Linked DNA regions of Homo sapiens: region 2 is linked to region 1. A link means that fine-mapping ties the variant in region 1 to the expression of a gene that starts in the linked region. Tissue or cell type: neutrophils. Region 1 holds a variant in brackets; the other region holds the start of a gene. All regions are shown on one strand. Distances are from middle to middle.

Region 1 (5,144 bases):
AGTCATTTCGATCAGGGATCAGGGCAGAGACCACTGTCATGGGTAGAGCTGTCCCGCCATTCCCCAGGAGGAAGGCAGGGCTGATGGCAGGGGTGGGGTGGGCAGTGGTGCTTAAAAAGAGGAGAGGCCCCAGGGGTGGGCAGTCTCTTTGCTATAGATTTCCTTGCTGTCAGCCCCAAGCACTTAGCAATTCTTGCTGTCGGATTCTCATTTGCTCTCATCTGTGCTACAGGAAATCAGTGTCTTGAGCCAGATGGGGTGGCCTGAGCCTCGGGCCCCTCACAGCATCCAAGGGCAAAGTCTCAGCAGAGCCATTGCCTAAAGATGTTAAGATTATTAAATGAAAGCACAACATGCCTGCAGAAACGTATACGAATCATCAACCTACAGCTGGAAACATTTTTACAAAGCAAGCCCACCCACGGAATCAACACCTGTGACACCGCTTCCCACCCCTTCCCAACTTCCCCCACCAAGGTAACGGCTGTGTTTCACGTCTTCTAACTCCATGAATCGGTTTTACCCATTCTTGAACTTTATTGCATCAACATAAAGGAAGAAACTGAGGCAAAATTAACATAAATAGAGAGTTTATTTGGGCCACGTTTGAGGACTGAAGCCCAGGAGACATAGACTCAAGTTACCCTGGCGATAAGCTCCAACAAGCAGCAGATGCAAATGGATTTTTAAAGGAAAATTGAAGGAGCAGTTTGGTCGTTTACCAGGAATGTACATTGGTTCTTTAAAATGGCATCAGTGCCTTTTGGCCAGAACCGCCATCTTCCAGGAATTCGCCAAAATGATGAATGCAAAGGGAAAGAGGAGAGGCACCCGGTACATGTTCTCCAGGCGTTTTGGAAAACATGGAGTTGTTCCTCTGGCCACGTATATGTGAATCTATAAGAAAGGTGACACTGTAGACATCAAGAGAATGGGAACTGTTCAAAAAGGAAGCCCCGCAAGTGTCACCATGGCAAAGCTGGAAGAGTCTACAGTGTTCCCCAGCATGCTGTTGGCATTGCTGTAGACAAACAAGTTAAGGGCAAGATTCCTGCCAAGAGAATTAATGAGCGTATTGAGCACATTAAGCCCTCTATGAGCCGAGATAGCTTCCTGAAACGCGTGAAGGAAAATGATCAGAAAGAGACAGAAGCCACAGAGAAAGGTACCTGGATTCAACTAAGCTCCAGGCTGCTCCACCCAGAGAAGCACACTTTGTGAGAACCAACGGGAAGGAGCCTGAACTGCTGGAACCTATTCCCTATGGATTCATGGCATAATAGGTGTTAATAAAATAAAAGACCTCTGGACTATAAAAATGTTTCTCTTCATTGAGAAGTGTGGTGCCCCCTCCCCCAAAGAACTATTTAAAGTAAATTTTAGTTGTGTCCTAATTCATTATGTAATGTCTTCACCATTCAAACGTAATGCATTTCCTGCTGAAAGACGTGAGGTAGCTTACTGTGCAACAAATTACTCAATGAGTTAGAAAATGGCCAGGTATTATGTATGAAATATTTGTACTGGTTTGAAGATAGTCCCTCTAAATCATCAAGGAAGAAATAAAATAATTTACAACAAAAAGCTTCAGTTATTGATTGGCTGAACGTTGTTGTTTGTATCACACATTTCAGAAACATGAAGATAATGGGCGAGGACTAAGCTCTGATTTTTTATCTTGCCCAAATTCCTTTCTAAGGGGTCTGGGGAGTCATGCGCTACAAAGCAGAAATTCTCATCAGATGGGTTTTATTTAACTCTGTATATCGTGACTTACTTTCCAACCTGACTCTGGCATAACAACGAAAAAAAATCAAAATATTTTACCCCAAAATACATTTCCTTGCCATACTTTGAAATTGTCCTGCAAAGTCTCTTGTGGGAAAAATCCAGATTCTATTGGAATCCCCTTTCCCCTTTGTTTTCCTTCCTTTCTTTTCAGATCCAGGAGATAATCAACTAGAGCCAGGTACACTTTTAGGTCTGATAAGAAACATTTTACAACCTGCTCTCTCTGAAGTCTGCTATCTGAGAACTTCCTCTGCACAGTAAAACTTGGTCTCCACAATCCTTCATCTTAACCTGAACATTTCCTTTCCGTTAATCCCAGGTCTTCAGATAAACTCAACCAATTGTAAACCAGAAAATGTTTAAACTTACCTACAGCCTGGAAGCTCCCGCTTTGAGAGTTGTCCCAGTTTTCTGAACCAAACCGTTGTATTTCTTTCTTTCTTTTTTTTTTTTTTCGTTTTAAGGAGTGGAGAGTTTAATAGGCAAGAAGGGGCAAGAAGGATGGGAGAAGGAAGAAGCTCCCCTGTACAGAAACAGAGGGATGGGGGGCTCCAAAGCCAAGAGAGGGAACCTCCAAACCCATATATTTCATATATATATATATATATTTT[T/A]TTTTTTTTTTTGAGATGGGGTCTCACAATGTCACCCAGGCTGGAGTGCAATGGCATGATCTCGGCTCACTGTAACCTCCGCCTCCTGGGTTCAAGCAATTCTCCTGCCTCAGCCTCCCGAGTAGCTGAAATTACAGGCACCCACCACCACGCCCAGCTAATTTTTTGTATTTTTAGTAGAGATGGTTTCACTATGTTGGTCAGGCTGATCTTGAACTCCTGACCTTGTGATCCACCCGCCTCAGCCTCCCAAAGTGCTGGGATTACAGGCATGAGCCACTGTGCCAGTCCCTCTTAAATATATTTGATTGATGTCTAATGTCTCCCTAAAAATATATAAAACCAAGCTATATGTGCCCCGACCACCTTGTGCACATGTTCTCAGGACCTCCTGAGGGCTATGCTATGGGCCATGGTCACTCATATTTGGCTTAGAATAAACCCTGTAACATATTTCACAGAATTTGACTCTTTTCATTGACATGGATAAGGATCACATTGTACAATTTGTGGTAACTTTTAGGAAGTCTAGACAGTCAGCTAGCCTGGAAACTACAGGGAAGGAAAGAAAAAGCCTTTGAACAGTGAACCCTAGGCACAGCTGCTGGCATCATTGTTCTCTGGGCCTGATAAGTTTGCAGGTCTCACATTCCTCAGGCTGCTCTGAGCCACTTCTCTTTCTTATTTCCTCCTTTGGATCAAGATCTTGCTCTCTGAAAGTATTGATGATCAATATTTTATTTTATTTTATTTATTTTTTGGAAACAAATGCTCGGTGCCTCAAAGAAGAACCAGCACTGAGACTAAGGATCTCTCAGCAAGGCAAATTTACTTCGGCAGAAGGGTATGTGCATCTCACATGTGAAGTAATGGCAAAAGCACACAGAACAAAGGAAAGCAGGGGTTTTTATTATGTCTAACACAGCTTCTGCTTCTGTGTCTTTCCCCTATTGGCTAGGGTTGGACCACACAGTCTAAACTAGTCCCAGTTGGCTAAACATTTAAACTTTCTTAGATAAGGTAGGCACGTAAGGGAGGTGAGAAGGGAGAGAAGGGGGGTCATTTACGGAGGGACTAGGAGGGTAACCTATTCCCTAATAAGGAAAGAAATGTGGACTGGGGTTGTAGCAAGTTCAGGCATGCCTAGGCATATTCAGACAAGCTGCGGTGCAGCACAGGCAAGGGGGTATTTGGAATTGTAGGATAGAGAATGAGGAAACTGGATAAGCTGTTTGAAGAGGAAACCTAACTGCATCTAACATTTTATTTATTTATTGAGACAGAGTCTCACTCTGTTGCCCAGGCTTGAGTGCAGTGGTGTGATCTTTGCTCACTGCAACCTGTTTCCAGGGTGCAAGCAATTCTAATGTCTCAGCCTCCGGAGCAGCTAGGACTACAGGCATATGCCACCATGCCTGACTAATTTTTGTATTTTTGGTAGAGATAGGGTTTCAACATGTTGCCTAGGCTGGCCTTGAACTAACTCCTGGCCTCAAGTGATCCACCCTCCTTGGCCTCCCAACATGCTGGGATTATAGGCGTGAGCCCCTGCACCTAGCTGATCAACATTTTAAGTGTAAATTTGCCCAGCATCACTGGGAAGGCTCATTCCCATGGGGGGGGGGGGGGTAAGAGGAGAGGTGCTCTGGCTCATGAACTCGGTGAGGTCTCCAGGCAGAAGATATTGGCAGCACAACGGGACAGAGCAGCGGGATCCCAGGCCGCCTGCTTGGAGAGAAGCTGTGGTGTCGCGGATCATTCCTAAGTGTTCTAGCTATCATGATTTTCGTTTTTATTCTTGACTTTAGACATCTAGAAATACAAAGCCTAATCAAGTGAAGAATAAAAAATATGATGCAAATAAAATCCCAATCTGGAAAGCATTCCTATTCCTAAAGGTAATCAATCATGTAAATCACGTGAGGGGTCTGTTTTTCTACCATCTTGCAGCCATTTTGCCTTTTTTTTTTTTTTTTTTTTTTGAGACAGAGCATCACTCTGTTGCTCAGGCTGGAGTGCACTGGCGTGATCTCAGCTCACTGCAACCTCTGCCTCCTGGGCTCTAGTGATACTCCTGCCTCAGCCTCCCAAGTTGCTGGGATTACAGATGTGTACCACCATACTTGGCAAATTTTTTTTATTTTTTATTTTTTTTTATTTTTAGTAGAGATGGTGTTTCGCCATTTTGGCCAGGCTGGTCTCGAACACCTGACCTCAAGGGATCCACCAGCCTTGGCCTCCCAAAGTGCTGGGATTACAGGTGTGAGCCACCGCACCCAGCCCATTTAACTTTTTGAGTGATTTCTAATTAATTTCCCACTTCTCGTCCTGGTCTGAAGAATAAGGTAACTGGCTGCAGATCAGCTTCAGCTGGGGATCTCCAGGTGGAAGGTACCCATGCATGCAGGACTGCCTTTTTATTTATTTTTTTTAATTTTACGTTAAGTTCTGGGATACACATGCAGAACGTGCAGGTTTGTCGCATAGTATACATGTGCCGTGGTGGTTTGCTGCACCTATCAACCCAGCATCTAGGTTTTAAGCCCCACATGTATTAGGTATTTGTCCTAGTGCTCTCCCTCCCCTTGCCCTTTACCCCCTAACAGGGCCACGGTGTGTGTTTTTCCCCTCCCTGTGTCCTTGTGTTCTTATTGTTCAGCTCCCACTTATGAGTGAGAACATGCGGTGTTTGGTTTTCTGTTCCTGTGTTAGTTTGCTGAGAATGATGCCTTCCAGCTTCAT
Region 2 (5,144 bases), 320 kb after region 1:
TCCAATTAAACCCTGCAATTCTGTTTTGGAGCTCAGGTACAATTCAGAAGGGTTTTGTGCTTGGAGAAGTTCATTTTTTATTTCTCTCATTCTCTTGAGGACCTTTTCTATTTTTAAAATGGAATGATTCTGTCTCAGGTCAAATGCTTTAGTTGTGTCTGCTTCCTCTTCCAAATCCAGATATTTCAATAATTTGTTGATATCTTCTACTACCTCCCTCCGATAATTTCTGATTTCTGTCCGGCCGCACACATCTAGAGCATCCAGGTCAGCGATCAGCCCCGAGAGCACACAGGATAAGTGCCTGCAGGTCTCATTGTTGTTCACACCCATCAGAAGTGCAATCAGGACCCCTCGGGCCTTGTTCACCTCACACATCACGAAGTTGATTTTGGCAACGGAAGGATGTGCATCCTCGGAAAGCGGCAGGGAAGGCTGCTTTTTCATGCAGTCTTCGATTATCTCTTGCACCGCACAGATTTTGGTTAAAGTGTGATACCTTGCTTTCCGCAAGGAGATTTTTCCTCCAGTTTTAACATGTGTCAGCCTCAGAATGATATCTTGGATGCCTTCTTCAAACTCATCAGTTACGCAGTTGCCTCCATTATAAAATGGCACAATTTTCTCTCTCACGAGGGACTGGGCTTCCTCAAAAATGTTCTGTATTTCAATCCGGTGTGGGTGGTTTGCATTCTGCTCCAACTCTTTGAGAAGACGTTCTGTCTCCTGTGCTGCCCGCTTCCTAGCTTGCTGAATATCTCCTTTTCCTTCAGTATCTACAGAGTCTATTTCAAAAAGCTGTTTTGTTAGAATCCTCTCCAGTTTCTTGTAATTCTTGTCATCTGACAGACCACTGAAGCCGATAACTTGCTGTTCTACACTTTTTACTTCCTTTTGGATTTCCTGAAGCCTACTAATAGAAGGATGTTGGTTTCCCATATCCATACTTTTGTTGTGTTCAGTTTCACAAGCACTAAAAGACGACAAGAATGATAACTTACTACAGCACAAGGCTTCTGCAGAACACTAATGGTATATTAAGTCATTCTAAAATTCTCATTTTAAAAAGGTATACTTCTGAGCAGTCATCCCACCTCAGCCTCCCCAGTAGCTGGGTCTACAGTCGTACACCACTACGCCCAGCTAATGTTATTTTTAGTAGAGACAGGTCTCACTATATTGCCCAGGCTGGTCTCAGACGATCCGCCCGCCTCCGCCTCCCAAAGTGCTGGGATTAAGGTGTGAGTCACCGTACGCGACACAAACTATTTGGAACCAGCAGGGCACCTTTATGAAAGGTGAAACAGTAGCTCTTGTAACCTTCCGAACACTAACAGTACCCCGCCCCGCCACACAGCTATGCCTAGTTTCCAGAAACTCTAAGCAAAAGAAAGAACCAGAACAAAAACCAGTGGCTCTCAGACATCCCCAAGGTCCCCGCTTCTTCGTTTCTCTCCATCCCTTTGTGCACTTCCCCTCCCCACCCTTTTAGCTCCTCACACATCTTCCCTCACAGAAGTCTCCCTGAAGAGATTAAAACCCCACAGGTAAAGAAGAGCGACCGGGACAGCGCTGAAGGGCACCACCTTGGGCTTTCGAGGCCCAACACCTCCTCAGCCCCCAACATGCTCCACTCTCTCAAAAAAAAACAACCCGCGAAAACGTGGTAACTATGAATAATTCATTCACTCGCCTCCCACTGGGAGTCCACAATGGCCTAATGCACGTTTCAAGCTCTTGGTTTCTATCAAACGGCTCGCTCAAGGTGGGTAACCAATGGAAACGCATAATCTATCCCCGGCGGATGTCCTGGAGGCCACGGAGGGAAGGCGGCCCGAGCTGCTTCCTCCCCGCCTCGCCCTTCCCTCTTGGCCCTTTACCCAAAAGAAGTCTGAATTGGATGCGGTCTTGGCGTCCCGTGGCTGAGGTGGCGAGGTGGAAGATCAGCCCTTTACGGGGTGCGGCACCGGAGCTGGGCCCCCAGCTGCATGCCTCGCACCCCTCCCGACTAGGTCTGAGCGGGGCAGCCGGTGAAGGGGCCGCTACTGGCTGCAGCAGCCGCTCCGGGCGTCTTGGCCCGGGTGCCAGGGCGCGCCTGCAGGACGTGACCTCACAATGGGCGCGCGAGGGGAGCTCGGCCCGGCCGGGGGAAGCCGGGGGAGGAGGGGAACCGAGGCCCGGCCGGAGACACCAGAGACCAGGCCCGGCCAGCCCCGGTCGCTTCCGACCCCAGGGGCGGGGACAGCGCCGAGACCGACTCTGCCCTGCCTGATCCGACAGGCCGCACGGGGCTGGGCGCTGGCGAAGGGGTGGCCCAGCGGGGAGCCCCGCGCGGAGGTGGTGCCCCACTCGTCCCCCCGAGAGAGGGAAAAGGCTACAAGCCGCGCTTCGCTCACCTGTCCCGCCCGCGCCATCGCGCGATGCGTCGCCGACGCTTCCACGACTTCCGCAGCTCCGGCAGTCGCCCGGGCCCGGCAGCCCCGCCCCTGGCCGAACACCCCTAAACCCGGGGACACCTCCTCCGGCGTCCGCGCCTAGCCGCCGGCAGCGCCACGCCCACCGCCAGCGGCGCAGCGAGGCAGCCTGGAGTGACCGCGACCAAGGAGCGGCCGCCCGGGTCAGCCCGCGCCGCCCGCCGCCCCCTCACCCCGTCGCACCGCTGGGAAAGCGCACGGTCGGCCGCGCCGCCGCGCTTCCTCGGGCTTCGCGACCCTGCCGTAAAGCGGCCCCTCGCGCCGTCGCAATGCTGCCGTGCGCCGCGGGAGCCAGGGGGCGTGGGGCCATGGTGGTCTTGCGGGCGGGGAAGAAGACCTTTCTCCCCCCTCTCTGCCGCGCCTTCGCCTGCCGCGGCTGTCAACTCGCTCCGGAGCGCGGCGCCGAGCGCAGGGATACGGCGCCCAGCGGGGTAAGCAGGGGCCTGGGGACATTGGGCCGGGAGGGGTGACCGGAAGGGAAGACAAACCCGGGCCTCGGGGCCACTCCCTGTTCTGCACAGCCGCCTCAGGCCTTTGTCCAGGTGCTCTCGCGTCCTATCCCGAACAGTCCCGCAGCCCCGAGGCTCCCGCATCAACGCCCTCAGTCGGATGGGACTGAGGGTGCCGCCGCCACCACGCCGGGGACTGTTGACAGCCAGAACCTTTAAGCGTAACAGAGTCACCTGGCAAGTTTGTACCTACCTTATTTGTTCCCGAGAATGATTATTTTTTATTTTTAAAGAGCTCTTGGCTTACCGTGCGTTTTTTTTCGTTGTGTGTGTGTGTGTTTTGGCTTTGTTACAATTATTAGTGCTTTTCTTCAAGCGGCGAGCACTTTATCATCGTACTTTTGTAGCACTTCACGTTGAATAGTTGTTATTTGCAAACTATGTGTGGGTATATGCATGTTACTGGCCAAAGATCCGCAAAGAATGTCTGTAGCAAGAATGTCTGTGGCAAGCAATTTTTATAAGTGGTACTTTTGGGAGGGATGTTTTGTTTAAGGGAGGCCTAGGCCTTGATTCCGTCTGTCAGATGAAAATGTTGACTAACGGTGTGGAATGGGCTGGAGATAAAATATTCAAGCAAAGCATGCAAATACCAAACAGGCTAATGAAGGAGGCTGGAAAACTTGGTTTAAACAATAATTAAAGAAGTATTAAAAAAGTGTTAATTAAAAATTGGACGGGCTCCGTGGCTCACGCTTGTAATCCCAGCACTTTGGGAGGCCGAGGCAAGCGGATCACGAAATCAAGAGGTGAGACCATCCTGCCCAACATGGTGAAACGTCTCTGCTAAAAATACAGAAATTAGCTGGGCATAGTGGCGCGCGCCTGTAGACCCAGCTACTCGGGAGGATGAGGCAGGAAAATCGCTTGAACCCGGGAGACGGAGGTTGCTGTGAGTCGAGATCGCGCCACTGCACTCCAGCCTGGCGACAGAGGGAGACTTCATCTCAAAAAAAAAAAAGCTAATTAAAAATTGCAAATGTACTTGCTTGTACATTTTCATTTCTGTTGGGCTGTGGCTGTTAGTACACTTTCATAATTGTAGCTTTGAAGGTCTATCTAGTTTACAATTTAAACAAGGAGTTACCAGGGCAACTTGCCAACCAGACACCCAAGTGGCTAGCTCAGTTCTGTGTTACAGTGACCAAGTCCTTGCCTTCTATCCCTAGAACATAGAAACCCACCCAGCATCTCTATCTTTGGGCAGAAAGATAGAGCAGGTGTCTGAAAATGCTCTAAGAGAGCAAACGGGAAATCAACCAAGACATTTCCCGGGCGGGGGGGATTTTCCCTAGCTTATTTTGTGAACTTGTGCTGGAAAGAAACAACAGCACCCAAATAAGGATTTCTCTATTGTCATATACACTTCTTTTTTTTTTTTTTTTTTTTTTTTTTGAGTTGGAGTCTCCCTCTGTCGCCCAGGTGGGAGTACAGTGGCGTGATCTCAGCTCACTGCAACCTCTGCCTCCCGGGCTCAAGCGATTCTCGTGCCTCAGCCTTCCGAGTAGCTGGGACTACAGGGGCCCACCACCATGCCCGGCTAATTTTTTTGTATTTTTAGTAGAGACAGGGTTTCACCTGTTGGCCAGGCTGGTTTCAAACTCCTGACCTCAAGTGATGCGCCTGCCTGGGCCTCCCAAAGTGCTAGGATTACAAGTGTGAGCCACCACTCTCAGCCTTAGACTTCTTGTTAAAGTAAAATAAATCTTACCATGGGTCTGTTCTCAAGATGAGAGACCTCTCTGCCTTGTTCGTTTTTTCTTTTTTCGAGATGGAGTTTTTGCTCTGTTGCCCAGGCTGGAGTGCAATGGCGCAGTCTCGGCTCACTGCAACCTTTGCCTACTGGGTTCAAGCAATTCTCCTGCCGCAGCCTCCTGAGTATAGCTGGGATCACAGGCGCATGCTGCCACGCCTGGTTAATTTTTTTTTCTTTTTTTAGTAGAGATGGGGTTTCACTATGCTGGCCAGGCAGGTCTCGAACTCCTGACTTCAGGTGATCCACCCGCCTTGGCCTCCCAAAGTGCTGAGATTATAAGTGTGAGCCACCATGCCCAGCCAGCACCAGCTTTTAATTGAAAAATATTATAGAACTTAAGAGTCAGGCACCATTCTTCCTTCCAAATCCATCTTTAAAACTCAGCTTTTCAGAAATATAACTGCT

Alleles and levels. Alleles are on the strand shown, and positions count from the first base shown. SD is a standard deviation of normalised expression in the study named.
As copies of T replace A in region 1, the expression in neutrophils of the gene that starts at base 2,741 in region 2 goes up (large effect, 1.7 SD a copy in BLUEPRINT).

Evidence for each region. PIP is the estimated chance that this variant, and not a neighbour inherited with it, causes the effect.
Region 2: COA8 starts here. The variant in region 1 is fine-mapped to the expression of COA8 in neutrophils (BLUEPRINT, PIP 0.95).

Annotation. Positions count from the first base shown.
Region 1 is chr14:103,240,693-103,245,836 of GRCh38, forward strand. It overlaps the pseudogene RPL21P13. Among named protein-coding and RNA genes, the nearest start is that of LINC00605, 54 kb to the left of the region's middle. RefSeq lists an enhancer at 2,867-4,066. The variant T/A (reference allele first, on the strand shown) is at 2,403.
Region 2 is chr14:103,560,220-103,565,363 of GRCh38, forward strand. COA8 (cytochrome c oxidase assembly factor 8) reads left to right here and starts at 2,741. Exons shown (of 5, transcript NM_001370595.2): 1 at 2,741-2,905. The coding sequence starts at 2,783. BAG5 (BAG cochaperone 5) reads right to left here and starts at 2,438. Exons shown (of 2, transcript NM_001015048.3): 1 at 2,397-2,438; 2 at 1-973. The coding sequence starts at 945. RefSeq lists enhancers at 1,043-1,556, 1,656-1,705 and a silencer at 2,046-2,695.